Linked DNA regions of Homo sapiens: region 1 is linked to region 2. A link means that fine-mapping ties the variant in region 2 to the expression of a gene that starts in the linked region. Tissue or cell type: pancreas. Region 2 holds a variant in brackets; the other region holds the start of a gene. All regions are shown on one strand. Distances are between the middles of the regions.

Region 1 (2,611 bases), 64 kb after region 2:
ACCCTAGGGTGTTCTCCTGGGACTGCACTCCTGGGAGGTAGACTCCTGCCTCTCACTTTCTCCTTCCTCCAATCCCTTCCATTTCTGCAGCCAGAATGAGTTCTTCTAAAATGCAGATTGGATCCTGTCACCCCTCCAGCTTAAACAAACCTCAGTAACCTTTACAATAGAGATCAAAACTCTTCAATGGCCCCCAAAGCCTACCTGTCCAAACTCAACTCTCACTGCCACTCTTTCCCTTGCTCTCCAAGGTCCAGCCCTCCCCTCACACTCTCCATTGTCTCCTTTGGAGCCCCTACATCTACCTGCCCCATTAGACTGTGAACTTCATGATGGGAGGGCCCTGTCACTTGCTTACCTTTGTATTCCTAGGGCTTAACACAGTGCCAGAGCCAGGGCTCAACCCACGGTAGGTGTTCAACACATGTTTGTTGAACAAATGAAAGACCAGCCCTGACACTCAGAAACACACAGGGAGGACACACAAATGTATGTGTGTGTGCATGCATGCACACACATACACGTACTTGCGCAGAAGAGGTCAAACACCTCCCCTCTCGGAGCACATCCAGAGGTAGCGCCTGTAGAAATTGGCAAGATGCTAATCAACACATGTAAATATTCAGTGTCCTCCCCTGGATGCAAACATTCACCCCATTTCCCTTCTACTTCACCTGAATCCTCAATCAAGCCTCGCTTATGGGTGGCAACAAAGCAGTTCTCTGTCCTTAAGGAGAGAGAAGGTGGCTCTTTCAAAGCACACCAGGTGGCCTTATCTCCTGGGCCTCACCTGCCCTCCACTCTCCTTAAGAAAATCTGTTACCAGCCATTGTATTTCCAATTTCCACTTGCCATCCATCTGTCCGACCAAAAACCCAACCATCTGCCCTGCCGACTTCGCCCCCAACCCTGCTGGTCAGGTCACCCCTTCTGTTCCTTGAAAAGCTCCTGAGCAAGCTCACCTTCTCCAGCAGGCCTGCTGACTACACAGTTCCCAGGGTCTCCTCCTTCCTGGTCACTCTCGGTGGACTCTGTGTCTGTGACTCCGTTAATGGCTGCCTTCCCTCCCACTCCCAAAGTTTGCTGCCTGTTTGATACCACTTGGAGGTGTGATTCCCAAGAGGGCAGTGGCTTATGTATCTGTGTGACTTATGGTGTCAAAGGTCCCAAGGGACCAGCTTAGCTGAAAAGTTAAGGGTTTGGATGATGAAAATGTCCTTGCTAAAAAGGGTCGTATAAATGAGGCTTCATGGGGCAAATTTACACTAAGCCAGTCTGGTTAAGAGCTTAAAGCTCTGCAAAGCGAGGAGTTGGATGGACTGATGTCACAGGACCCTTCCATCTCTGACCTCCTCTGAGCTAGAATGTTAGCCCTGGGGGCCTTGCCCTGCCAAGCCTGGACTGGAGGAGAAGGAGGAGGCGGGGTGAGTGGGAGGGGCAGAGGGAGCAGAGGCGCCTGCAGCAACCGACACCTGCTCCAGCCCTGCCTGTCCACTACCAGTCAATCCAGAGCCTCAGCAAGCAGCAGCTGGAAACGGGGAAGAGGGAGCAGACAGGAAGCGGGAGGTCAGCTGTACACCCAGGTAAGTGGGTGCTCACACCTGGCTGCCCACCCGGGCCAGGGTAGGGCCAGGATGGAGACACTAGCCTGCTGTCCAGCTTTTCTACGCAGGAAGGGGCAGGCAGTGGGCAGGATGTCTGCCTGGGGAACATTCCCTGGCTGGCGGATCACACGCTGGGGTGCACCTGTATCCCCTCTAGGTTACTCCAGGATATCTGGAGGAGAGAATTTCAGTGTGTCCTGTCTGGGCATTTCTGTCCTGGCTCTAATTTTCTGGACACGGCTTGACTTTGGGTGTGATACGATGACCAGATTAAAAATATCACTAGCAGTCCAGAATAAGGACCTCGGGCTGGGACTTGTTATATTTTGGTTAGTATCATGGTCAAAGCAGTTGAGAGAACTCCATTTGGCTCTTCCTGCCTCAATTTCTACCAGTTGAGAGGTAGCAGGGACCAACTGGAGGTAGCAGGGACCTGGATGTGCAGGATGGATCCGGGGAGGGTAGGGAAAAAGGATGGGGAGCCATAGGTCCTGGAGAGGGGGCAGGGAGGGACTGTCCCAGGATCCAGTGCTGAGAGTGTTGTTGGGACAGCTGAAGTGAGGACACAAACTGCTGTTTCCTTCTGGGAAGAACTGGAGTTCTTCTCAAATGTGGGAATGAATTATGGAGGAGAGAATTCATTTCCTTTCTCATCCCTTCCAACTGAGACTACATCCCTCTAGTCTCCAATCCAACAGATCTCTTTCCCTGTGTCATTGACTTTGTACCAAATCTGGCTTATTCTAAAAGAGAGTGGAGCTCCAGAAGTGGATGCTTAACGTCACATCCCTAAGTTCCCCCAAGAGCTTTGCTTCTTTTGCCCTCCTCTGCTGGGAGCTGTAGGCAGGAGGCTGGAGGGAGAAGAGTGGTATCAGCGTCATCCTTCTTCATGTGTGACCAATAGCTGAGTAACAGGATGATAGCTGCTCGTGGTGATGATGTGGGTGACGATGGGGATGATGACTCAGATAGCTGTGTTGAACTCAAACTACTCCAGTGTGGGGGTC
Region 2 (2,755 bases):
ACATTCTTTTCCCCCATATCCCCAAATCAGCCCTCAGCTTCAGCGTGAACATAACTCTCTTCTCTCAAGCAGCCTCTGCGTTCTCCCCTCTAGCCCATGTTCACAGAGTTGCTCCTTTCCGGGAGAATTAGCCCCTTGCCTTTCCACTCATCCAACTCCTACTTCTGGAAGCTGTTTGGGTCTTTCTTTGTCCACAGAGCTTTACTACCCTCTCCTGTTTCTGCTCTTTCTCCTTCTCCCTGAATCCTAAAGCCTTGGTGCGTTGCTCTCAGTGGTCATAGTTCATTGGCGTGCCCTCGCCTTGCTGTTCACCTTGCTGTGCATTTGTGTCTTGCTCTTTCAAGGAGCAGGAGTTCCTTGAAGGGCAGGAACCTCATGCTCCCTCTGTATCCTGCGGGCCCAGCCCTGCCCCTGACACATAGGAGGTGTCCAAGAAGTAGCCTGATGTGGAGGGGTAATTGAATTGCTGCTGGATGAATGGCAATTGAATGGGCACAGGTGAGTGTCACCAGTCCATGACTGTTATAGCAAAGCAGGTGGTCTCACGAGCCGTGTCACCTTCCTTTAATGTCTGTGGTAGAGCAGCGATGCAGAGGTCTGAGCCTGAAAATACAAAACTCATCCATCCAAACTGCCTCCTCGGGGAGCAGGATAAAAAGCACAGGCACTGAGTGGGAGGAAATGCTGTGTTCTAACGGGGACAGAATCTTGGCTCACACCGTAGGGAAGGAGACTGTTATTTACTAGGCACCTTACCATGTGCTAGCAATTTATTTATTTAATCTCTTCAAGTTCCCTTAGCTCTTTTAAAGTTAATTTTTTTTTTTTTAAGTAACAGGATCTCACCTTGTCATGTGGGCTGGAGAGCAGTGGGACGATCATAGCTCACTGTAAACTTGAACTCCTGGGTCCAAGTAATCCTCCTGCCTCAGCCTCCTGATTATAGCTACACACCACCATGCTGGGTTGTTAAAAATTTTTTTGTAGAGACAGAATCTTGAACTTCTGGCTTCAAGTGATCCTCCCGCCTCAGCCTGCTGAGTGGCTGAGATTACAGGCATGAGCCACTGTGTCCCGCCCTCCCTTAAATCACTTTCTATTCCCATTTTACAGATGGGGAAACTGAGGCTCAGCAAGCTTAAGTGAGTTTAAGGGGGATCATATTTTTAGTAAATAGCATGATTAAAAACAACAAAAATATTTATATAACATTTATTCTATGCCAAGTACTAGTCTAAGCACTTTACCCATTTGATTCTCACATAGTGCTGTGAGCCATATACTATTATTAACCCACTTAACAGGTGAAGGGACAGAGACCTAGATATGCAAATGGCCTGTGGTCCCACAACAATTAAGTAATGGAGCTAGGGTGTGAGCCCGGGCCATCTCTCCTGTGGCCAGGCCCTTCACCACTGCTCTGCACCTCCTGAGCCTGCTCCCAAGTTCAGACCCAGGCCTAGCTCTCCTCCTGCCTAGACCCTTCACGACGAGCAAGTCCATGGGAAAATGCCCGCTCAGTGGCAATGTCCTTGGCAGCACAGCTGATCTCGCCTTCTCCCAGCACTGGTGGGTGCCGTAACCCCAGCCAGCAGGTGGCTTGGCTCTGTTTTCCTTTCCTTTGGGTAGGAAAGCCATCAGGGGTGACTA[AGCCCT/A]GAGTAAACAGTGTTCCTGGCCTCCCTCCTCCAGGCCGGGTGGGGCTATCACTATTTCAGGATCAAACTCGGGCACATCCCTCAGCCACCACCTTCGCACGGTTACCTCTCTGGGTTTGTTCCTCCGGCAGCGCTTATCCTGATCAGTGGCTCTTGAACCTCCTGGGGGGACTGCGGAATCTCCGGGGCTGCCCGCCTGCCCAGCAGCACCTTCAGCAGCCTCTGGCCGGGCTTTCCTGCCACAGCACCGGGAGCCAGGTACACTTTACCTGATTCAACTTCAAACGGCAACACACCCAGAAGGGGAGGGAGGAGGGGCGGCAGGGGGTGGGGGCTCCTCTGATCTGGGATCAGCTCCCAAGAAGGAGAGAGGGCCACTCCTGGCCTCCTGTGATTGGCTGCCCTGAGTCTGGGCAAGTGACATGCAGCTCTGGGCTGGAGCCTAGGAGGAGTGGGGATGCTGTCCTCTAGGGCGCTGCCCTGCTGAGAGCCAAGGGAGGGGGATGCATCTGGCCCAGCTGGCAGGGAGCCTCAGATAGCCTCTGGATGGAAGTCCATACAGCAGGAGGGACTTGAATTAGCGCGTAGGAAATGCGTCGTGAGCGTGAAGGGCAAGAGACCAGGAACACGCAGGGAGTCTCTTTTTATGGGGGAAGTCCTTATGGTCAGGAGAAGACAACACTCTCTCTGGAGTGGCTTTCATGATACCAGTTTGGGGGTGGGGACTGTCAGGTGATCACTGGGCACTCCAGGGGTTGAACCGGGGACTAGGAGGGCTGCAGTGGCTCTCCAGGGACACAGTGCAGGGCTGGGGGGCACTCGCACCGCCAGCCTCCACCAGGGACTGCAGGGTAGCTGCACCGCACATGCACAAAGCTGCCTGAAGCCAGAGCTGGAGGGGCCCGTGGAGGTCACCAAGGCCATCCTCCCCAGTGGCCAGCTGAGGAAAGTGGCACCCAGAGAGGAAAGAGGTGTGCCCAGGGATACGCGGCCCACTAGATGAGCCTCCGGCAAGGCGAAGGCCCAGCTCTGTGTGGTGAGGCCTGCGGCTCTAGGGAGGAGGCCTGTGCTGGGAGCTGGGAGGCCTGTGCTGGGAGCTG

Which allele goes with the higher level. Positions count from the first base shown, and alleles are read on the strand shown. Sizes are in standard deviations (SD) of each study's normalised expression.
For the expression in pancreas of the gene that starts at base 1,500 in region 1, A is the low allele of the variant in region 2 and AGCCCT is the other (moderate effect, 0.66 SD a copy in GTEx).

The links. PIP is the estimated chance that this variant, and not a neighbour inherited with it, causes the effect.
Region 1: it holds the start of IGFN1, and the variant in region 2 is fine-mapped to the expression of IGFN1 in pancreas (GTEx, PIP above 0.99).

What each region holds. Positions count from the first base shown.
Region 1 is chr1:201,189,325-201,191,935 of GRCh38, forward strand. IGFN1 (immunoglobulin like and fibronectin type III domain containing 1) reads left to right here and starts at 1,500. Exons shown (of 24, transcript NM_001164586.2): 1 at 1,500-1,583.
Region 2 is chr1:201,125,323-201,128,077 of GRCh38, forward strand. ASCL5 (achaete-scute family bHLH transcription factor 5) reads right to left here and starts at 1,862. Exons shown (of 2, transcript NM_001270601.2): 1 at 1,762-1,862. RefSeq lists enhancers at 1,056-2,046, 2,047-2,755. The variant AGCCCT/A (reference allele first, on the strand shown) is at 1,651.